Regions from separate parts of the Homo sapiens genome. Here region 2 is linked to region 1. Evidence: fine-mapped expression QTL. A gene starts in region 1. The other region holds a variant in brackets. All regions are shown on one strand. Distances are from middle to middle. Region 1 holds the start of DNAJB14 (DnaJ heat shock protein family (Hsp40) member B14). Region 2 overlaps DNAJB14 (DnaJ heat shock protein family (Hsp40) member B14).

The links. PIP is the estimated chance that this variant, and not a neighbour inherited with it, causes the effect.
Region 2: its variant is the best candidate, but not a certain one, in a credible set for the expression of DNAJB14 in whole blood (INTERVAL, PIP 0.80).

What each region holds. Positions count from the first base shown.
Region 1 is chr4:99,938,728-99,951,058 of GRCh38, forward strand. It overlaps DNAJB14 (DnaJ heat shock protein family (Hsp40) member B14), which reads right to left and starts at 7,891. Exons shown (of 8, transcript NM_001031723.4): 1 at 7,712-7,891. The coding sequence starts at 7,844. H2AZ1 (H2A.Z variant histone 1) reads right to left here and starts at 11,548. Exons shown (of 5, transcript NM_002106.4): 1 at 11,441-11,548; 2 at 10,936-11,013; 3 at 10,546-10,659; 4 at 10,084-10,213; 5 at 9,361-9,796. The coding sequence starts at 11,443. The coding sequence ends at 9,735. H2AZ1-DT (H2AZ1 divergent transcript) reads left to right here and starts at 11,767. Exons shown (of 4, transcript NR_125923.1): 1 at 11,767-11,953. RefSeq lists enhancers at 7,275-7,324, 10,202-10,807, 10,289-10,338, 11,379-11,468, 11,413-12,017 and silencers at 7,495-8,154, 10,959-11,048, 11,129-11,178, 11,839-11,888, 11,929-12,138.
Region 2 is chr4:99,917,546-99,929,876 of GRCh38, forward strand. It overlaps DNAJB14 (DnaJ heat shock protein family (Hsp40) member B14), which reads right to left. Exons shown (of 8, transcript NM_001031723.4): 3 at 5,495-5,640. Among named protein-coding and RNA genes, the nearest start is that of DNAJB14, 23 kb to the right of the region's middle. The variant AT/A (reference allele first, on the strand shown) is at 6,761.

The DNA.
Region 1 (12,331 bases):
TTGTATTATTCTTGCAACTTTTCTGTAAGTTTGAAATTATTTCAAAATTTTCCAAAACTAAATGTACTAATATAAAGGGGCTCCCACTAACCAAAAACCTAAAAAATGATAACTTGCTAGTTTTTGGAGAATGAAAAGGAATAGCCTCCTTTTCCTGAAAACTGATAAAAGCAATCAAGCATTTATCATGATTTTCCTATATAAACGATACCACTGCATAACCATAAGACAGGTGGAGGAGGAAGTATCTCTTTATATAAATATTTCGGCCAATAAAAAAAAAAACTTTTTAAAAATTGTAGAGCCAGATATGAAAGTGGTTATATATGTTTAATATTTAAAAGTGCCCACCAGCCGGGTACAGTGGCTCACGCCTGTAATCCCAGCACTTTGGGAGGTTGAGGTGGGTAGATCACCTAAGGTCAGGAGTTCGAGACCAGCCTGGCCAACATGGGGAAACCCCGTCTCTACTAAAAATACAAAAATTACCTGGACATGGTGGTGCATGCCTGTAGTCCCAGCTACTTGGGAGGCTAAGGCAGGAGAACTGCTTGAACCCGGGAGATGGAGGTTGCAGTGAGCCAGGATTGTACCATTGCATTCCGGCCTGGGCAACAGAGCGAGACTCCATCTCAAAAAATTTTTTTAAATGAAATAAAATAAAACAAAATAAATAAACGTGGCCACGAAGACCCACTGCATGCTAATTAGAAGTTATCTGTGTGTTCCTCCTTTCATTTTTAGCACAAACATGTTCTCCCATGGTTCCTCTGGACATTTTCCATGTTAACACCTAGATTTTGGATATTGCTAAAGCAGAATCATATAGTTGTTACAGATTTTTGGCAGTTACTATGATAATGAAGATTTTTCTGGAATTTCATGCACAGGGCTTCTGCCTAACAGTAGCTGTGTGCATACATGAGCTCATACTACACAGTCTTTGGCTCCATCAAGTGAAAATGTGGACAAGCTGTATTACTTCTGGGCCTCAAAATCTAGCTTAATCATCTTAAAAATGGAATCAGCAAAGTTGTCAGTACTAATAATCACTGGAACTGATGCCTAAGAAGATGACTCAGTTCAACTACCATGAGAATTTAGAACACATTGGATCTTTTGGATTTATTAAATGTCTTAGCTATCACATGGGATCTCTTTTACAATAATGCGCAGTGTTACAAACATTAATTGGGATAGTACTTATAAACCAGAGAACATTCACTTTTATGAAAAATTTTATCCAATCTTATTTTATGCATTTACCTTCCAGACGTACTGCTCTACTAGGAGTTTTAACATAATCTGCATGTAATTTAGTATATTCCATATTAAAGACCAATGAAAAAGTTAATATAGAATTTAAAATATTTATGTTGATAATCCAAAAAGGAAGAACTGAGATCTATTTTTATTCTTAAGTTTCTGTTGCACTCCTATATAATGTCCACCATTAGCTGAATTGAATATCAGAACACATGATTTGAAAAACAAATAGATTTTTTCTTTTTCACAAAATACAAATAGCTTTTATTTGTGTGATTATACAAACATGTATGTTCAGCTCATTAAAAAACATAACAGGCCAGGCGTGGTGGCTCATGCTTGTAATCCCAGCACTTTGGGAGGCTGAGGCAGGTGGATCACTTGAGGTCAGGAGTTTGAAACCAGCCTGGTCAACATGGTGAAACCCCGTCTCTACTAAAAACACAAAAATAAGCTGGTGTCGTGACACACGCCTGTAGTCCTAGCTACTCGGAGGCTGAGGCAAGATAATCGCTTGAACCCAGGAGGCGGAGGTTGCGGTGAGCTGAGATTGTGCCACTGCACTCCAGCCTGGGCGACAGAACGAGACACTGTCTCAAAAATAAATAAATAAATAAAATAACAAAGTAAAAATCACTTATAAATCCCCTTCCAACCCTCCCCCAAATCCCCCCCAAAAAATCACTATAGCCTTTTGGTTACTCTAGTTAGCTAGCTGTCTAGCTTTTTAGACATTATTAAATTAAAAAAATATAATAATCTACCTGTTTTTAGCTTAATTTTCTTCAATTGTTGACATATTAGAGATATCACCTTATAGCAATAAACACAGGTCCATGTCATCATTTTTAATAGGTGCATAATTTATGAATGCAATGAATTTAATCAGTTTCCACTAATGGACATTTATACGCTTTCCAAATTTTTGCTACAGAGACAATCCCTATATATATATATATTTTTTTTTTGGAACACTTGGGCTGATTATAGAAAAGCTTCATTTGTGAATATATTAATATAGAAGGCCTTATGGCTATAATATTTTCATTTAGTTATTTATTTAACAAATTATCTTTATTGAAGAGAGTAAAATTAAATAAACAGCTATCATTCCAGAAAATCCAGGCCCATAGATGTCACAAATATATGTAAAATACTGTTAGGCATCATGGGAGTAAAAAAGATAATTAAGATTAAAATAGTTCCTGACCGCTAAGGTATTTTAAATGTAGGAGAGAGACAGCTATATACACAGGCAATGTAAGGGATGAAGTCAGCAAGGCAGAAGAACTAAATGTTAACTAAGCATGGAATGAGTAGTTGAATCCAAATTAATATTACTCCTAATTTAAAGCAATTATCTTATGCTCAAATAATTACTTTAACAAATGACAGAAGAGACAAACATACTATCAACTCCAAGGTACTATTCAAGTTTTTTCCTATAGAAATAATACATGACATGCTTACAGCACTTAAGATAATAAAATATCCTCACGATAAGCCTGCGAAGATTACAAATGAGAAAGCTGAGGCTCAGGAAAGGAAGAGGTAATGACAGAAATGGAATTATTGTGTCATATACCAGATAGATACTTCATGTTTCCCCTAGAAGGTAAGCTCCATGAGGACAAGGACTCTGTCTTACTATCCACTGAATTCCCAGTTCTTAGAATATTGTCTGGGACAGAAAAATGTATATTCAGTAAAAATTTGTTGAATAAATCAAACTCCATTTTATAGATGAGGAAATTGAGGTTCGGAAAGATTAAGCTATATATCCAAGGTCACATCATTATTAAATTAAGATTCAAACCCTGAATCAGTATTCTTTCTTCAACTGTAATATCTGAAATAATTTGGCTACTAGCTGAAATTTGGAAATCATTTTTGTAACACTTCAGTTGGTGCTATAGAAATAATTGTTTTGAATGTATAATTTGTACTTGTCACTAAATTTCAATTAAGTCAGAAACACAAAAGACTGAAATTATCTTAAAAAGAATATGTTGGATAATACTCCAGATGTATAATGACAATTTTAAAAGCTACTTTTTAAACCATTTTAAGTAAGACAAAAAGAGACAGAACTTTGTATTTTTTATTAGATATAAATTTTAAAATAATGTAGCAAAAAATTAGGAAGAAAAAGGACTGTTTAAATTGCTATTGTGCAGATAGATGCTGCAAATTATATACTATTCAATACATAATTTGGATTATCATACTTATCCGTTCATTACAGTAGATGAAGAATGGCCTTTTTTGAAGCTGTAAGCCACCAATTGATTCAAATTACTACAGTGTTCCTGAAAACAATAAAAATGCTTTTCTCTTAAAAAAAAAAATCTACAAACTATTTCCCAATTATTATGAAATTGCAATGCAAAGCATTAAAACAGATTGTACCCCTCTCTGAAAATCCAGAACATATCAATAACTCAATAAATGTACAGTTTATTCAGAAACTACAGTTACTGAGTTCTGCTTACTGACATTTTTTCTAGAATATTTATATTTTCTATGTGGTAGCTATTCATATATATCAATACTTTAAAATATTTGAAAGTTGTACAACTGAATTCACTTAGAAGTCCACTGCAATAAGTAAACTGTAAAATAATATTCTCAACTAAAAACATGGAAAGAAACAATATCCTAGATCCATTTGGGGATTAAGTTTTTTGTCAAGAAAAACTCTTGCCAATTTCTGAAAGTGTCTTATGTATCAGACTTCCTACCTGGCAAAAATAAAATTTTAAGAGGACAAAAATCCTGGAATCTAGCAGGAATTTAGTCTCATGTTTTACCATGTAAGAATAATGGAAATCAAAATGTGATCTTTTCTTTTGCCTCTCTTAGTTTAAGCATATCCAGACGAACATTCAGTCAACTTTCTGAGTTATAAGAATTTGGTGGTGGACTAGTATAAGTGAAATTCAGGGCTAAAATTTTAAAATCTAATTGTAACCAATAGCTTCGACTTCCTTCTATATGAAATATTTTATCAGGATCTCACACAAATGTCCTAGATCTTTCTCTCTCCTGAATTCTTAAATTGTACCAATAAACATCTTCTAGAATGTTCTATATAAAATACACTTCTCTGAGTACTGGCATATAACTTTATTTCAGCTCACATAAATCCTGTGATGACATCTTCACTTTACATATAACTAAAGAAGGCTCAGAGGAGTTAAGTAATTTGTCACTGGTGAAAAAGGAGTCAGAGAAAACATCTGCATCTGAACTAAGGTTTTTGGACTACACAGTTATCCCCTATCACTTTATTTGGTAATCACATACTGCCTTACATTTGTACTACCAACTTTCACCCTTACATTTCTTAATTTTTCCAACATTCATGTCCTTAAGAGCAACAAACTGTGTTGTGCTTTGGTATCTTATAATATCTTTTAGGAGATTTATTCAAATTGTTTGCATGACAGAAGCATGATAGTGTGTACATTTGGGTGGGTTTTAAGAATTCTCAGAGCTTCACACTTGTAAAATGGGGATGACACCAAAATTAATTGAGTGCTTACTGTTAAATGCTTTACCTGTATTAACCCATTTAATCCTCACAACAGCACTATGAGATCAGTACATTGTCTCCATTTTACAGACGAAAAAGCTAAAGGCTAGAGAGGTTCTCTACCCTGCTCAAAAATAAGGTTACAAGCTAGTAGGTGGAGTCAGACTTCAAAAGCCAAGTTATTCTGTCTAGACTGCCTACTCACTTAATGTTAAAACTGTCCCTCTAGGACTAGATAATGACTAAATGAAATCATATTCAACAGTAGGGGAGGATTCAAAAATAATTAACTCCTGGCAATGATTTCTTGAATATGACAGCAAAAGCACAAAAAAACAAAGCAAAAATAGAAAAATGGCACTACAACAAACTTAAAAACTTATGTGCATCAAATAGCACCATCAACAAAGTGATGAAAAGGCAACATATAAATAGGAGAAAACATCTGCAAATCACATATCTGATAAGGGGTTAATATCCAGAATAAATAAGGAACTCCTACAACTCAACAAAAAAAAAACAAGTAATGTGATTTAAAAATGGGCAAAGGACTTGAACAGACATTTTCTCCAAAAATGGGATATTATAAAACTAGCCAATAAGCATATGAAAAGATGCTCAACATCACTAATCATCAGAGAAATGCAAATCAAAGCCACAATGAGATATCACCTCCCACTCAAGGATGGGTACTATCAAAACCAACAAAAACAGAAAATAGGTGTTGGCAAGGATGGTGAGAAACTGAAACCCTATGTACTGTTCGTGGGAAAGTAAAATGGTGCAGGCGCTACAGAAACTGTATTGTGGTTCCTCAAAAATTAAAAATAGAATTACTGTATGATCCTACAATCCCACTTCTTGGTATCCAAAATAATTGAAAGCAGGCTCTTTGCATATCCTTGTTCATAGCAGCATTATTCATAATAGCCAAGAGGTGAAAGGAACCCAAATGTCCATAGACAGATGAATGGATTAACAAAATGTGGTGTATATATACAATGGAATATTATTCAGTTTTTTTACTGTAGCTTTTTTTTGGTCTTTTTTTTTTTGTTTTTTTGAGATGGAGTCTCGCTGTGTCGCCCAGGCTGGAGTGCAGTGTTGCCATCTCGACTCACTGTAACCTCCATCTCCCGAGTTCAAGCGATTCTCCTGCCTCAGCATCCCCTAGTAGCTGGGATTACAGGCATGCACCACCACGCCTGGCTAATTTTTTTGTATTTTTAGTAGAGATGGCGTTTCATCATGTTGGCCAGGCTGGTCTCGAACTCCTCACCTCAAATGATCCGCCCGCCTCGGCCTCCCAAAGTGCTGGGATAACAGGCGTGAGCCACCGCGCCCAGCCTAATCAGTATTTTTTTAAAGAGGAATTCTTCACGTTACAACATAAATGAAACTTGGGAACATTATGCTAAGTGAAGTAAGACAGTCACAAAAAGATACTGCATGAATCTACCTATCTGAGGTAACTAAAGTAGTTAAATTCACAGAAACACAAAGTAGAATGGTAGTTGCCAGGGTCTTAGGAGACGGGGCGGTAGGGAGCTGTCTGATTAGTACACAGTTGTGTTGTAAGATGAAAAAGTTCTGAAGAGTCCTTGCACAACAATGTCAATATACTTCACTAATGGACTGCACACTTAAAAATAGTTAAGACCGTAAATTTGGCAGGTTTTTAAACCACAACTTAAAAAATTATTAACTCTTTTCTTTCATTTTATTTTCCTGTCCTCATGGGTATAGTGTTAGAAGGCAATGTAATGGAAAGGATAGAGAGAAAAGCAAAGAGCACAGGGCTTCAACGACGTAGAGAAAAAAATTTAAGAGACAACAAAACAAGTGGCCCCATATTTTCATTAATAATTTTCTACAATTAATTGAATCTATCGATAACTTTCTTCTTAACCTGGAAATACTAATGGCAAGGCAACAGTGTAGCGGTTAAAGGCCTTTTCGAGTCTGAAAGTTCAGCTACTATTCTGACTTTGCTACTAATTGTTGTGTGACCTTGGGTAAGATACTTTCATTCATTCGCTAATTCATTCATTAATTATCAGAAAGTCTGTTTCCACGTGGGTAAACCTGGTCAAATGAATCCTGCACCTCTACACAGAATTGTTCTGAGGAATAAATGAAATAATCCATGCAAAATGTTGGGCACAACTATTGGCACTTTGTGCTCAATAAATGTTGGCTATTATTACTCCGAAGCCTATCGAGTAGGAAAATAAATAAGCTGACTTCAACTAAAGGAAACCCAGTACCATATTCCTCAGAGATTTGGTTCGTCGATAATCATGGTGTTATCAAATCAGATACTCTTCAGCAATCATTACTGACTCTTGACCATTCTTGCCGAAAGTGTGCTCTTCTCTTTTAAAGGAACTCTCTCCCAGGGAAAAGCAATGTCATCTCAGGTATTCGATGTTTGCTTTGGGAACAGTTTTCTACAGATCTCAGAAACATGGAATCTGAGATTAGCCACTAGAGTACACCATTCCTCTCACTTCGATAGGGGCCTAGGCCTTATGTAGGACTGAGAATGGGGAGGGAGGGGGCCACATAAACAACACAGATACAAATAAAGCCTCACTGTGGTAAGACGGGACCAGACAAGTCTCCTCCAGGGAGAATGAAACCCGGACATTTAGGACAGCGGAACGCGGAGCCGGCGGGCAGGCGGGTGCAGAGGAACCTCGCGCAGCATTCCCCGAGCCCCAGCCCGGAGCCGGGGCTGGGGCCAGGGCGGGGGTGTGTCGGGATGCTCCCCACCGGGCCTGGGGCTGGGGCTGGCTCAGACAGGCCGGGGGCCCCGCAGGCCTCCAGGAGGGGCCGAGGTGGGGGCAGGGGCGGGCTACGCGGTGGTCTGGGGATTGGGCAGGAAGAGAAGGGACGCTGAGGTCTCACCGCGGGCCGAGGGCAGTGGGTAGAGCTTCTCGGCCTTCTGCAGGAAGCGCTGGGCCTTCTCGCGGTTGCCGGCGTTCAGGGCCTCCCGGGCGATCTCGACACATTTCTCAGCCTCATCCCTGTTCCCCTCCATAGCTTGCTCCTTCTTCCGTTTCCTCCGGCAGCGCAGCTAAGAAGGGCGGAAGCCGCCGCCGCGGAGGAGGCGAGGCGGGACCGGCTGGGGGCGTGCGGCGGCAGCGGGGAGGAGCGCAGGGGACCGCGGCAGCGGCTGCGACGGCCCGGGCGGACGGGCGGGCCTCGCAGCTCCGCCTCCTCACGGCGGCCTCCCCGCCCCCCGCGGGCCCCTAGGGCGCGATCCGCATCCGTCCCGGCCCAGGACCAACCTCCTGGGCCGGGGCGTCCGAGCTGACTCGGTGGTCCGCGCACGGCGCCAGCAGGCTCGAAGCGGACCTGCCCGGGAGGCGGACGATAGCAGCCGGGCTGCCCATCGCGGGGAGGGGTTCCGCCCGGGACCCGATTGCCGGCATTGGTAGCGCCGTGCCCTGTGACCTCCAGGCGAGGCCCTCGCAGCTCAGGCCAGGAGGACAGGGTCCGGGAAGGGGACACTCGTTTTCAGTAAAATTGCCAGGACTTGGAGGTTCCGCCTCTGGGCCCCTCAAGCGAGGGAGGATGCGGTCAGGTGAGGACCAAGGTGTCAGTCCAGTCTCAGCACTTCCGGGACACGTTAGAGCGTCGTTTGAACCTAATCTTAGGGCTTGTATGGCAGCCTTATTTCAGCTACATTTTTTCTGACCCGGATGTCTGGCTATCCAAAGTACAAAGCAGTTTAATTTGTAGCTTGCAACGAGTGGTGCAGATCGACCTTAATCCTGTGTAGCCAAAACAAGGCAGGAATCAGCCCCTCAGGGGCTGCCCTAACGAAAGCAAACTTTTGATTTCACCTTTTCCGTCCCATTTGGATAACATTACCACTTGGAAGTACCGTGTCTTGTTAGTCTTCGCGGTGGGGGTGGGGGGAATGTTTGCTATGTGCAAATTTTTTAAAAAAAAACATGACAAACTGTCAAAATGACCTGCTCAACCCAACCACAAGGTAACAATTTTTACATAATGCTGTGAGCCAAGCTGTTAATTCTGCTAACTACCATAACTCGGTACTTTCAAATAAGAAACCCTGCTTCTCTTCGATAAAATGGAGATAGTATATCCCCAATGATGTTACTGAGTACTTAACAACTTCAGACTTCAAAGCAGGGCCTGGCACGTAGCACTATTATCTTTAAAGTTTAAATTCGGAGTTCATTCTGTGGATATACAGGACATTCCTACCTATTCTCTCCCTCCCCAAGTCCACCATGCTAACAGCATACTAGTGCAGTGCTGTCACACAGCAAGCGAAGCCAATGTACAAACTGAAATGGTCACACTTAGCCTAAGAAACTGACAATCCCACTCCAGCTCCTGCCAACTTTTTAAATTAAAACTTTAGTAGCTCATATAACATTAAAAAAATATACTTGGGCTATCTCACTTTGTTGATCTACAGATTTGACAGTTCAGTCACAAAGAAATGTGCTTAGTTATTGCTGCTAGATGAGATACTCAAAACAAGTTCCTATTACAACCAAGCAAATTTAATACACAACTAGTTTGGGATATGACCTTTATTGAACTTATCCACCAGAGTGGAAATAATGTCTGTACAAAACCAAATGTTTGTTACTATAACTTCTGCATCACAATTAAAATCCAAACAGTTTTTTAAAAACAGTCAACTCAATCAAAACCCACTACTTCAGAATCAATAGCTTCTTTGAAGCCACAGTAACACTTAAATATGGTTAAGACTCGAATGCAGAAATTTGGTTGGTTGGAAAGCTAATTAAACTTCCAACTTGCTCAAATAGAATTACAAAAAGGCAAAATTGTGTTTTTCACAGAGATACAGTCCACTGGAATCACCAACACTGGACAGCTGTTAGAGTATTTAGAGTCCTGAGATAACAAGGAATCCAGGCATCCTTTAGACAGTCTTCTGTTGTCCTTTCTTCCCAATCAGAGATTTGTGGATGTGTGGAATGACACCTAGGAGAGTGACAGGAATTAATTCTACTTAAGATTTTTTAAAAAATCACAGTATTTGAAACCAAGAAAGTGTATACTGTTCAACTTGAAAGGTATCTTTAAAAACATGCAGCTCAAGTATGAAGTAAAAATTCATTGAGTTATACATATAAATCAAATTTCATGATACAACCATACTTCCATCATTGAAAATATACTTAAATTTCCTCTCCTGGAAAAACTAATTAAAAGCAGCAAAAAATTCCTTCCTCTGAAGAAATTTTTTAAAATGTTAGAAGTTAACATACCACCACCAGCAATTGTAGCCTTGATGAGAGAATCCAATTCTTCATCTCCACGAATAGCAAGTTGCAAGTGACGAGGGGTAATACGCTTTACCTTTAAGTCTTTTGATGCATTTCCTGCCAGTTCAAGTACCTAAAAGGCAGAATCTGTCAGTTGCCTTCCAACTTTCCTTTGGCCAAGATTCAGAGAACAGAATAAAACCCTCACAAACGCAGATCTACCAACTGGAATCGTTCCTCACTATCTGACTGGCAAGATATACAGGGGGCACGCAATTTTAATTCCAAGAGCAGAGAACTCAAGCTCAGTAGGATCCTTGTTGAACACCAGCTCCCTCTAGCGTTCTCTTAGGCCTCTCGCCGCGTTCAGGGCCTGGGAGTTTTCTTGCATCACTTTCCTCCTTCCCTCTTGCCGCCTCCCCGCCCCCCAAACCTTCTCCGGATTATAGGCGTTCACCCATTTACCTCTGCGGTGAGGTACTCCAGGATGGCTGCGCTGTACACAGCGGCAGTCGCGCCCACACGTCCATGACTGGTCGTCCTAGATTTTAGGTGTCGATGAATACGGCCCACTGGGAACTTAAATTTTAAGCATACACAAACATAAATGCACAAAAATGAGAACTAGAGATGGGGAAATTATATGCGCGCCAAAGCAAGGGGCACGGGCGCAGCAACGCGTCCCGACATCGAAACACGTGATTCCTCCCCCCCATATTTATCGTATGGGCAGCCCAAGTCGCGACACCGCATCACCCACGCATACACAAAACGCCCATCGAGAGCGATGAATAACAAAAAAGGAAATGCAAAGAAAAACATCATGACTCCCAGACTGCACGAACAACTACTGACCTGCAAGCCGGCTCTCTGCGAGCGGGAAACCGCCTTTGTCTTGGCCTTTCCGGAGTCCTTTCCAGCCTTACCGCCAGCCTGCGGCGCGCACACGCCCGCGAGCGGAGGAGGAACGGAGAATATAGAATTACCAAGGCGGCGCGCCCATCCCCCACCGCGGCGCGTCCCGCCGCGAGCGCGTCCCCGCACCCTGCCGGGGTCTCCGGCCCGCGGCGCGCCGCAGGGGCGACCCCGCCCGTTCGCCCCCCGCCGCGCGCTCGCCACGGCCGCGCGCCTCCGCCCGCCGGCCCCCAGCGGCGCTGCGCGCGCCACCCAACCGTCGCCGCCCGCCGCGAGATCCGAGGCTGCTCCGCTAGCAGCCGACAAAACACCTCCCCCCACTCTTCTAAATCCTGTCTCCGCGCGTTCCCAACCGTCGCCACTTCACCCCCATCCCTCTGTGTAACGGGTTTTTCTCTCGCCGGCAAAAACCCGCGGAGTCATCGAGCGTCTCTGCGAAGTTTACCATTTCGAATTCCGCTGAAGCTCAAGCAAGCAAGGCAGAGAAAAGGCTAATCGGACCCACGGTGAGATCCCACCACCTACTCCTTCGTCGCACCGCGATTCAAACTGCGCTGTCTCCCGCCTTCCCTGCTCCCTTTATACTGCAGAATGTTCCCTCATCCGGGAACTCGGATTGCTCATCCCACCAATGGCTGCCACCCGCCCTCGGGACGCGTCCTTGAGACTTCAGCCAATGAGCAAGCGAAGAAAAGGGTGGAGGGGCGGGCGCTTCTAATCTCAAGCCGCGATTGGGGCGTGGGGGGAGAGGCGGGGGAAGGCGGAGGGATGGGAACGGGGGAGAAGAAGGGCACCGCGGCGGGAGGGAAGAAACAGAGCGAGCTACGCTGCAGGAGCGCAGTTACCAGCCGGCTGCGATCACGTGCCTGGGAGGAGGAGCTGAGACCTCAGGGGAGGGGCGCGCGGTAGCGTCCCGGGTCCCCTAGCAGGGCTCTAGAGACCACGTGAAGTCTCCTCGGTATGTAGCACGCCGCCCCCACCACTCCCAGCCCCATTCCCAGCGCCTCTCGGGCGGAGACCTGCGACCCGCAGCCGCTTTCCGGGGCCCCGGACACCCCTTCCCTACCCTCTCAATCCCTGGCGGCTCCTCCCGTCTGACAGGTGGCGCGAACGCGTCCAGTGAGAGGAGTCTGAGGTTTGCCCTGACGCCTTCCACAGCCTTAGTAGAGATTCCGTGTTTCTTCCGTCTAGGCGAGTCCCCAGCCACCAACAGATCACGACCCGCTGCTCCCACTTTATTTTCAGCCGGGTCTTCCACCTCTCCCTCACTACTTATGAAATCCTCCACGGAATAGTTCTGTGACAGCAAACGGTGAAGCCAAGTCACCTCACTGGT
Region 2 (12,331 bases), 21 kb before region 1:
GCACCACAAATAATACCAGAGTACCATGTTCTTTCTCTCCTCTTGATATTTCAAGATTCTTTCCTTTATTGTGTCCTTTTGTTTAAAGAACTTCCTTTAGCTATTCTCTTAGGTTGTATTTGCTCTTGACAAGTTTTCCCATTTTTCCTTCATCTGAAAAATGTCTTGATTTCCCCTTCATTCCTGAAAGATATTTTTGCTGAGTATAGGATTCTAGGTTGACAGTCGTTTTCCTTCAGCACTTGAAAAATGTGCCACTTCTTTCTGGCCTCTGTGGTTTCTGATGTGAAATTTGCTGTCATTTAAATTGCTTTTCCCCCTATAGGTAAGGCGTCATTTCTCTTTTGCTGTTTTCAAGCCTTTGTCTTTAGTTTTCAAAAGTTTGACAACGATGTGTCTTGGTGTGGCTTTCTTTGGGTTTATCAGTTTGGGGTTCATTCAACTGGAATCTATAGGCTTCTATCTTTTGCCAAATTTGGGAAGTTTTCAACCTTTAATTTTCTGAGTACCTTTTCAGCTCTGCCCTCTTTCTCCCTTTCTTCTAGGACACCAATCACCTAAATATTAGATCTTTTGCTATAGTCCCACCTGTCTCTGAGGCTATGTCCTTTTTCATCTTAGCTTATTTTCTATGTTCAAATTGGAAAACATCTATTTTTCTATTTTCTAGCTCACCAATTATTTCCTCTATCTGTCCATTCTGCTGTTTATTCTAGTCATTGATAGTTTTTGTTTATTTTTGAGTTGTAAAATTTCTATTTTGTTCTTTATACTTTTAATAGCTTTGCTCAGACTTTCTATTGCTTTGCAGAGATTCTTTTAAGTTTATTTGTAGTTGCTCATTGAAACATTTATATGATCATAAACATTTATAGAGTTTGAGATATTCCTGGTTCTTAGACTGACAAGTAATTTTCAACTGAAACTTCGTAATTTGGGTATTATCTTATGAGAGTCTGGATCTTATTTACATATTTTGTTTTTATTGTATTCCTCTGACTCCACTTTGGCAGAGAAGGGGGAATACCATCTCATTGTTCCTAAGTGGGAGTGGAAGTCCAGGGTTTTTCCCTTGGCCTCTGAAGACACTCAAGGGGAGGGGTCCCATTGGATAGATACGTAAGTTCCCTTATGGGAACATCAGGCCTCCACTTACGTCTCCCTGGCTAGGAGGAGAAGAGATACTTCATTACTGTTCTCCATTTAACTTCCCTGATACCATAAGGAAATGACTTTGTTACCTGTGGGTGGTGACTGAAGTCCTGACTGTGCATTAGGCTACCTATGATACTACCCTAGCAGGGAGAATGAGCACCCTTTTATTGCCAGGTGGAGGTGAAAGTCCACATGATCTCCACTGACATCATGAGGGAAGCCTTTCTTACTACCCAGCATAAATGAAAGTCTAAGCTATCTAGTTAACCTTCTCTGTTACCATCCCAGCAGGGAGCTTAGAGCATCTCATTACAGCATAGAGAGGGTGGTAGCATCTCATTACAGCACAGAGGGGGTGGTAGTATAGGCTCTCTACTCAGACTTTGCTAGTGTGGGTCAGGGTGGGGCCACAATTTTTCCTGTGGTGTTTGCAGTAGAGTGGCTACTGTTTTTCTGTCTTTCTAGGCTATCCCTTTCCTGATCATTTGGCTAGATAAGGCAGGCTTTTCTTGGGGCTTTTCTGTCTATATGTATTGGTGTTTTGGGGTTGCCTACTCCTCCAGCACCTAATCTGGGATATATATGGGGTAAAAAAATACCTAGGCCAGGCATGGTGGCTCACACTGGTAATCCCAGCACTTTGGGAGGCTGAGGTAGGTGGATCACGAGGTCAGGAGTTCAAGACCAGCCTGGCCAAGATGGTGAAACCCCATCTCTACTAAAAATACAAAATAATTAACTGGGATTGGTGGCAGGCGCCTGTAATCCCAGCTACTTGGAAGGCTGAGGCAGAGAATTGCTTGAACCCGAGAGGCAGAGGTTGCGGTGAGCTGAGACTGCGCCACTGCATTCCAGCCTGGGTGACAGAGCAAGACTCCATCTTAAAAAACAAACAAACAAACAAACAAACAAAAACCTAAGCAACTAACTAATATGTTGTTCTTTGAATCCTGAGGTCCCTACCTAGTTGGTCTGCCTTTTTTCTCTCCATCTTTCAGAGTCTTCCTATGTTTGTTTTCTTTATTTTATATATTAATGTTTGGGGTTTTCAGTTGTACTCATTGGGAGAAATGGGGAAAAGTATATCTGTCCTATCTTCCTGAAAGTGGAAGTCCTCATGGAATTTTAGATCACCCACCTCATTTTCGCTGCCAAGGTTTTGCCAACCCCTCTCTTTAACCATAGAAATCATGCTAACTCTTGAGAAAACTCTTAATTTTAACCTTAATTCTAACTATTATGAAGGCTTTCCCAATTACTCTGCTCACAATGAGTCTTCATCTTTCTAACTTTTCTTTGGACTTCTGTAGTCTGTTTTGGTATTTAAATATAGTTGGTCTTCTGTGAGATCCTGGGTAAATCTGAGTCTCAATTTTTTTATTTTTGAAATAAGAATGACACTGGTCTCTTAACTATTTGATGAGATTTTTAAATAAGCATTAAATGTAAAAATGGGAATGAAAAACTATGTTTGTTAAATGTGAGGCATTACTATATCGCAAAAGTTCTGTGTAAGGTTTATTTCCCCCTTATGAATTATAAATTATTTGGGGAAGAGGATATCTCAGATTCTCTCACTGTATTTCTCTACAAGAACTAGCCCAAATGGCAGAATTAAACTCTTTGTTCTTAGAGATATACTCTAGATGTTCATATTGAACTACCAGAACTAATACAAGCAACAACTCCCATTCCACTACTACTTGTCAAGCAAACACATAAACAACTAATCCATGCCCCATTATTACATTCATGTGTATGTCAACAGACACAGGTATTATTCAAATAGTCTCTGAAATACTTGGGAATCTTTGAAGATAATGTAGATGGGTATGTTTTAAAGACATCTACATCAGAAAAAAGGAAAGGGACTTATTTCATTAAAATATTTTTTTAAAATATGTTTACATGTATTTTGCAAGTCACTTTACATGTAAATAAAATATTCCCCTCTTGGGAAACATATAATCCTAACTGGAAGGACAAAATAGCTATATGAACATATGAGTTCATTTAGTCCATTCTCCTTGAGAGCAATCTTTTTTATTTTTAAAGCTTTACAAAACACACAAATGAAACATCTCTTCATTTAATTACTAATTACCTCTTCTTTTTCTATTCTTGAAGGAAATGAAAGCAAGTAGTTTCCATTTTCTGTAAAAAGTGTTTTAGTAATTACAGAGCAATCAATCCATACTTTAGCTTTTATAAAAAAGACAATAGTATTGTCTTTGCTCAGAGATAAATGGCTTAGTATTCCAAAAACAGACTGATTGGTTAAAAATAAAATAAGATGATACAGAAGATAATGAGAAGATCCTGTGTGCTAAATGAATGAAACCTGCCATTTCTGTGTGATGATGCCATCTGTAATATTTTCTAATTAACTACTGTTACTCGCCAAGCGTGTGTGGATTACAACTTGAGTTTTCTATGCAGTTTCCACTCAGTGAAAAATGGGCTCATCAGCCAATTCCCTATTCTGATCCTCTTTGGGACTAATAAACTGGCATTCTGATTTACAGGTAATCTCTTTGTGTATTGAACAATGTATCCTCTCCTCAGATATAAATCACTTCCCGGCATGTTGGTAAGTATTAAGTTTCTAGTTTTGCAAAGCAGAGCACTAAACTCTGAAATGTACCACATGAAAGTGTAACCAGTTTTGTAAAACCCCACTGAGTGTCTAGCGGGCTTCCTTAGGTGACATCTATGTTGCTAACCTATTCAAAACGCAACACAGGCTGCAGAAATATGTTACATACATTTAGTGTTATTCAAAGATGCTAACATGACTTCAATATAGAAGTGGAAGAAATAGTTTAATGTTCTTAGCATTAATAAAGAATTAACATTGAAATCACTTAGCAGATCACAAACATACAAATAACCCACTGCCAAAATATTTTAAACATTTTTAAAACTCAAAAAATTTTAAATTAAATTTGTGGAACTCATAAATCTAAACTCACTTTTAGCTTTTGGGGGAATATATGATAATAAATTAGCTATTTAAAGATTTCAGTTACTTTTTCTGGTAACTCTGTGACTGCATACATTAGGCTCAAGCTATAAAACAAATTAAACAAATATTTATTGTATTTGACAATTCCATCAGAAATTTCCCAACTTTCTGTACTATTGAATTATAAATTAACCTAAGTGCTATTATCTGTGTTTTTTTAAAATGAAAGCTTTATCTTTGTTTAATAAAGGTGTGTATTTGGAGGAAATAAAATAATGGCACTATTTTCTGGATACATTCTTCAGGTAATGAACTGACGGAAATGTAATTTGCAAGTTAGTGTTTTGGAGTAAAGCTTTTCCTGTACTTTCAACATGCCACTTTTACTTTAAGGAAACAAACTGAGACAGCTCTCGCTGTCACAGTGGTATTTTACTTTCACCAGCACCACTTTGGCAGTGGCTTTTATTGGAATATATTATTAATTCCCAAATGTATTTTCCTTGGCAACTTCCTTCAAGAAATAAAACTGTTTTGGAAACAATCTTAACGGTATTTTCATGAAGGACCAATTGCTTCTTCTACCTTTTTGGAAGATGTTTAAAATGAGTATCTACTTCCAGTTATTCTAAGACCCCACCATTGTACTGTAAACATTATACACTGGGTTTATGAATGCCAAATTCACAAGAATGAACAATCACAAATTTAGGCATTTAACTATGAATTAGAAATTAATTATTACAAATAAATTGTATTTAACAAAATATAAAACTACAAAATCACTTCTCTGACATTTATTAAATTGGCAAAAAATTTAAAGAATATTGGGATGGAAAATAAAAAAATAAATAGTAGGCAAGAGGAAAGATATTAATTTTTAAAAAGAAAAAAATAACATTAGCTAAAACTACATATATAAAATGAAAAAACTGGGCAAAGTTTAATAGAAATAAAAGAACACTGGGGAGCTATTTCTTAAATATCCAAATTCCACACAGTCTCTTGTACCTTAAAAACTCAAAAAAACTATATTTTGCTTTTAGTTCATTTAGAACCAGATGACAATACGCTAGAAGCTCATGCATAATCATCACCCTATTTGTTCCTGGTAAACAAGAAAGCATGCATATGTGCCTAGAAAAGTTACTTGAGACTGTATCAGAACTGGAATGTTGCTTTTGTGAAGCCAAACTGCATTTGTTTGCCTTCGGGTATAACCAGTTAATACTGAAGTTTTAAAGGATTTTCCAGACTCTTGCTTGTGCTGGTCTCTAAATGCACCAGTCCAAAAGCAGAACTTAATATTCTGAAACGCCGTAAAGTGAATTCTAAAGACAGCTTAGTAAAATTGCTTTAAAAGGTTTACTTTACTTTTAAAAGCATCTGTTGCTCCAGGTGCATGGTTTTTGTCTGGATGAAACTTCAAAGCAAGCTTTCTATAAGCTTTTTTCAAATCTTCATCACCAGCATCTTTCGTAACTCCAAGTACTTCATAGTAATTTTTACATTTGTTTATGCTGTGAACAAGAGAGTGTGTTATAATGTAAATTTCAAGGAAGACGGTCATGTAATATCTCTAATTTTTAATTTATTAGAATACTATAAAGAACTATCTGTGGACTCTTTCTCAAAATCTAATGAAGGCTTATCCCTTTAAGGATTAGTCTGCTTCATTCTCTTTTTCGACCACAGACCATTCCTCCAACCTCTTCCCGAATCTAAGAAGAGTAAACCATGAAAATGTCCTTAGTGTAATGTATCACAACTACAGAGAAGTAAACAAAGCCCATAATAATTGTGGATGAAAGTCAGAGCATATATTGTAACTAAAATGAGACAATAATAATAATTTTTTAGTACTTGTAAGTGGATAAATAAATTCCAAAACTCCTCAAAAGTATGTCACAGCTAAGAATGAACATGCATTACATTCCAAAAATTTTGTTCTTGCATAATGTAGATCTAACCAACTATCAAAGCAACAGTTTAGTACACGCAAAACAACAGCAGTATTCTATGGTTTAAATGTCAATATTTATTTATTTTTGATATAGATGGGGTCTTGTTATGTTGGGGCTGAGGCTAGTCTTGAAATTCGGGCCTCAAATGATCCTCCCATCTCAGCCTTCCAAAGTGCTGGGATTATAGGCATAAACCACTGCACCCGGCCATCCCCGTTATGCCAAAGATAATTTATCTGTATCACTCTCTGAAAAAGATAACATCTCATGATAAAATATAACACGTGACTCAAAAAATGTTATCCCTGATTTTCATTGTGATAAGCACATTTCTAAAGATTATATACATACAGTTTGTACCTTAAAGATTTAAGAGATTTAAGCCTGAAATCTTTAAAGTATATTAGGATTAGAAAATAAATACTCTGAATGGAACAGAGAACATTACGTACATGTGGATGCCAACCTTCTTCCACAACCTAGTAATTTACTTTCACAAAAGCCACAGTACATTTTCAAAATTTTTGGAGAGTACTTTGCAACTTTAGATGTGTTCCATGTGCAGGTGGCTTGATGACAGAGTTAGTGACAGGCAAAATGATCTAGGGTATAAGTGGACACTGGCAGCAAAAGAACTGCAAAGACTGACTCAAAGTTTTCAAAGAAAAGAGACAAG[AT/A]TTTTTTTTTTTTTTTTTTACTATTACACCTATTAGTTATCACAGTGCTTGGCACACAAAAGGATCTCAGTAAATATTTTTGAAGTAAATGAGCCTTAGCTTTCTTTATATAATGAAGGCATCTATCATTTGTTATATGAACTTGGGGGTAAAAAGGGAAAGTAATATAAAATTGTACAAATTTACAGAAATTAAAATTGGATTTTTCTACTTTAGATACTTAAAAACATTAACATACATCAATTTTATTCCAAAAACATGACATTTCCTTTATTTAGTCAATAATATTTATTGAATACTAACTATGCCCAGACAGTGTTCTAGGCATTTGACATATATCTGTAAACAAAAAAAGAGAATGATCCCACCTGTGTAGAGACTCATTCTCCTAGAAATGTTTAGAAGCTATGTGATAGAAAAAAAGGAAATGGGGGGCATTTATAAAATACCTACTGTGTGTTAGGTACAGGTCCACCATCCCATATCAATGTTCCAATATCCATAAAGCTCTGAAAAATCAAAGTTATTCTATAACTAATTTGACTGCATAAAAAACTGAATTCAACTGTAGATTTTGCCTCTAGGCAAAAATCTGACCGAAAAGATGTGAAGCTACTACAGAATCTTCATTTATCCCATTTAAGTGTGAATACCTGTATGTTTTGCTGTAGAAATGTTACTATTTGTTATGGACTGCTGCCCTAGACTCTAAGATGTATAATATAAAATACACTGTCATCCCTTGGTATCCACAGGGGATTAGTTCCAGGATCCTCCCTCCTTGAATACCAAAATCTACAGATGCTCAAATCCCTGATATAAAATGGTACAGTATTTACATACAACCTTTACACATCTTCCCATGTACTTTAAATAATCTCTAGGTTATAAATAGTACCTAAGACAATGTAAATGCTACGTAAATGGTTGTTACACTATATTGGTTGTTTAATTTGTATTATTTTTTATTGTTGTATTGTTATTTTTCACCAAATACTTTCAATTCAAAGTTGGTTAAATCCACAGATGCAGAACCCATAGATGTGGAGAGCCGACTATATTAGTACCTTTCTAAAATATGAAGAATTCTGAATTCCAAATTGCATTTGGTCACAAAGATTTCACATAAAGAATTGTAGAATTTTATTATACTGATTATTTTACACAAATTATCTCATTTACTCCTCATTTGGTAGATATTATTCCTATTTAACCAATAAGGAAACCAATCTTTGAATGGTTAAGTAAATTGCCTAAATTCACATAACCAAGTAACAGATGAGAATAAGGACTTATTTCTTCAACAAAAATTTACTAACCATTTACTTTCTGTTAGGCACAATTTCAGATGCTACAGTGGTGAATAAAACAGTCAAAATCACATTAAATTTACAATTGGGAGAAAAACAAGCAATAAACAAATATATAAGTAAAATATAATGTACATCATATGGTGATAAATATCTGGAGAAAAATAAAGAAGCTAATAGAAACAGAGAAAGGAAGGGCAGGCCTTCTATTTCAAATAAGTAATAAAGGAAGGCCTCACAGTTAAGAATTCAAATCTGTTTATCTGACTTGAAAATCTTGCTGTCTCAGAACTGGAATACAGAAAAAAGGATACCCTTCAGACTTCAAAGTGACCTATCATCTTCCTATTTCTTTCTTACCATCAGTATTGAAGCTGACTCTCTTACCTCCTAGATCTTTGCAATTGCTTTTGGTGCTGAGCACACCTTCTCTGCCTCTCTTCTTGGTTAGCTAGTTTCTACAACTTCTCCGGACCCTGACTTAGCTCTTCCTTTTCCTAAGAATCCAAATTCCTCAGGACTAGGTTTGCTGCCCCTCTTATATCCTCCCCACATCCTCTGAACTTAGCCTTATCCCAACAATTACCAAAGTGTACTACAGTTGCCTCTTTACTTGTCTGATAACACTTCTAGATCACAGATTCTTTGAAGGCAGGGATTATGTTTTGTTCACCATATATGTTGGATGGATGGACAAATGACTTTCAATTTGAGAGCAGAAATGGTGAGGATCTAAAAAGTCACGTTCAGATCAAATGTGATGAATGCTGTCATGAAAATGTAGTTAGTACTAAAAATCATTTGGAATAGAAGAGAAGCAGTTAATAGAAGTGAAACAGACTGTGAGACAAGGTGGAGAGGTACGAATATGGCAGACACTACCTGAATGCAAAAAATAAAAGGTAAATTAAACACTGAACAATCCTAAAGCCATTACTACTTGGTTTGAGTGTGTAGGATGTTTAATTATGTTCCAGATTAAGCCTCTAAATTGTCTTGTTTATAATTACTGAGCACAAAAGCCTGGTCAACTTAAAAAGACAGCTGGATACTGTAGACAAAGTAGGTGAAAATTTGCAGTGCTCTAGATAGGGTCATAAAGCTAAGAATTGCCACAGACAAACAAAAAAAAAAGGGGGGGCCAGACATGAAAAACAGTTATTTCACTAACTCTTAGCTGTATCCAGCTCCACCATATCTCCTCTGCACTAAATTTTTCATCATATATTAGAGAAGAAATTCTTGAGAAGCCAGAAGTTACAGTCATCATCACCAATGGACAGCCTGAAGACTATGTATTTGAAGTAATGCTCCAAATATACCCATTCACCTAAGTTTTCACACCTGAATGAGAAATTATCATTCATATAATTATTTTCATTCATACTGTTGTTCATCATGCTCCTTTTCATCAGCTACATGTGTTTGTCACACTTTTTACAATCTGCTGCTTTCTAAAAGAGTAAAACCTTCTCCTGCCTCACTGAAGAATTAAAAGAAATTAAAAAGGAGTAACCCATTACCTATCTTGGAAGGAAATAATGTACAACAAGGCCAAAAGGATCTGTGTGGAGCTCAACAATGGGAAAACTCTGCCTGGTCCAGACTTTATATCTTCTCTTATGTGCATGGAAGCATAGTTGGTGGGAGAGGAAGGTCATTTTTCGATTCTCTTTTTTTCATGTGTGCTATATAGCTAATTATTTAAATATACTCCAAATTTAACTAGTGTTTAAGGAAACATTTATTTATTCCTGAGAAAAAGAATTACTTATTTTATAAGTTTAGCGAAATGATTTCTTCTGAAAGAACGGAAGCTTAAATCAAATCTTAAATTCAAATCCCCATAATTAACAGTTGTACAGTGTTTCTAATTGATAAATACAATGATACTCCAGTTAATAATTTCACACTGATCTTGTAAAGTTTTAAAGTTTTTCAATGGTATGTTAAAAATTTCAAATAAGATCCATGACAACTTTGTCTCAATTATTTTTCAATACACTTCAACTCAAAAAAAACAAATCGCCAAGTTTAACAGAATATTAGTTTACAAAGTTACACACTTTCTCTTCAGTCTTACTGTAAGCTAGCTCTTACTTATGCAATGGATGCAGTATTATTGCAAGACTTCTCCCCATTGAGCCAAATTGTCACTGAGCAACTTGTTTGCATAATCGTGCTAACCAACAAGATAACATGGCTTTCTTCAGAAAAATCCCCTGTGTATAGGTAAAAGAAAAAACAAAAACATACATCATGTAAGTGTTTGCTGGTGATCTGTACCCTCACTAAAGCAACACTTATGAAGGCTAATATAAGAGAAAAGGTATATTCAGCTAAGAAACTCACATAAAGTACAGACTAAAGTATTTTGAAAACTTGGGGATTCTCTTAGAGACTGTTCCAATCATATTTAGTCCCCAAAAGAAAAAAAAATTACATTTAATTAAAAAGGTATAATGAGATTATTGACCAGAGGACCAATCTCTAATACAGGTATACTACTAAGCTATTTCTTCCACTCTTAAAGAATTCATGGTCCCAAATGTGGCTGGGCCTTAAAACTAAATCAGCAATACTTCATTCCCTTTGCTTTTCTCCTCTGCAAATATTCCATACTTTTACCACTCTCTTAAGCTTTCAACCTCATCTCTTTTCTTCTAACTCTCAGAAGACAGCCTCATCTCCAATTTGACAGAGAAAACAGAAAAATTCCTTCCACCTTTTATGTCTCCACCTGTATGTCTGTATGTCTCTGGCCACATACAGAGTGTATCTACACTCAGCATCATCTTTCATTCTTCCATTCTCAAGGTGTCTCCTTGCCTACAGCCAGTTCCTCTGGGCTTTGGAGAACCACACACACAACCACCCACATACACACAAAACCAACCCCACCCCACATATATATATAATCAATACCAGAACAAAGAGGCATCAATGCTCTTCCTTCCTTATTTCTACCACACCTTGGACTACTCTTCTTTTTCTTTCAAGGCTAGGGTAGAGGAAATGAAGAAACAGACTTTTTAAAATAACACCAGATTTAGGAGAGTCTTCTTTTTCAAAACTTTCAACCATAGTTTTTTGGTAAACTTTCAAATATATAGGTGATTCTATATTCTTAAATATATATATATAAAATACATTTAACTTTCTTTGAATCCTTCATTGAGAATATGTTCTCCCAACATAAATTAAATCCTATAAGCAAATACAATTTGTTTTAGGATGTGGTTTCCAGAAACGTGTTTCAAGCACACTGCTTACTAATAAACGTTTTTTACAAAATAAATTCAAAAGTAAGTCTCTTACTTATTCACTTCTTTCACTTATTCAGCTACCTCTGACACAGTACTATAAGTATAAAAATGGTTAGCAGCATTATTTATATTCTCAAAGTGCTTCACTACCATTCATACTAATCAAATACTCTACCATGGCTTTACCATGATTAAGGAATCCTTTTTTGTTTGTTTGTTTGTTTGTTTGAGAAGGTGTCTTGCTCTGTCGCCCAGGCTGGAGTGCAGTGGTGTGATCTTGGCTCACTGCAACCTCTGCCTCTTGAGTTCAAGTGATTCCTCAGCCTCAGCCTCCCGAGTAGCTGGGATTACAGGTGCCTATCACCACGCCCGGCTACTTTTTCTATTTTTAGTAGAAATGAGGTTTTGCCATGTTGGCCAGGCTGGTCTTGAACTCCTGACCTCAGGGGATCTGCCCGCCTTGGCCTCCCAAAGTGCTAGGATTACAGGCGTGAGCCACCACACTCAGTCAGAGAATCGTTTTTTCTCATTGTAATCACTCTCAAATAAAATGTTACAATCAAGCTTTAGCATTTAAATATATAGGGACAAATGCAAAATATAAATATATGGGTATTTGATTTTAAAATTAAGATATGGTAACAAATCACTTTCCTTAATAAATAAAACCTGTATCTCAAAATACACTTCAATTACAAATTATGGTAAATAAAAAGTTGAGAATGGGGTAAAAAGGTGAAAAAAGAAATAAAATTAAAAGAGAAACAGACAAGAAAGGACAAATGAGAAAGACTTAACCTAACTAATTTTAACTACTCTTCACTTGAGTTAGTTCACTATATTATGATTCACTCTCCATGAGAATTCTTGAATTAATCTCTGTTCAAAATCCTTAATCTTTAGTTTCCCTAGCAAAGTAATATCAGCACAACATCAATACAGCTTCCATAAGCTTTAGCAGGAAACAAAACAGACTTTTCTCTAGTGTTTCAAA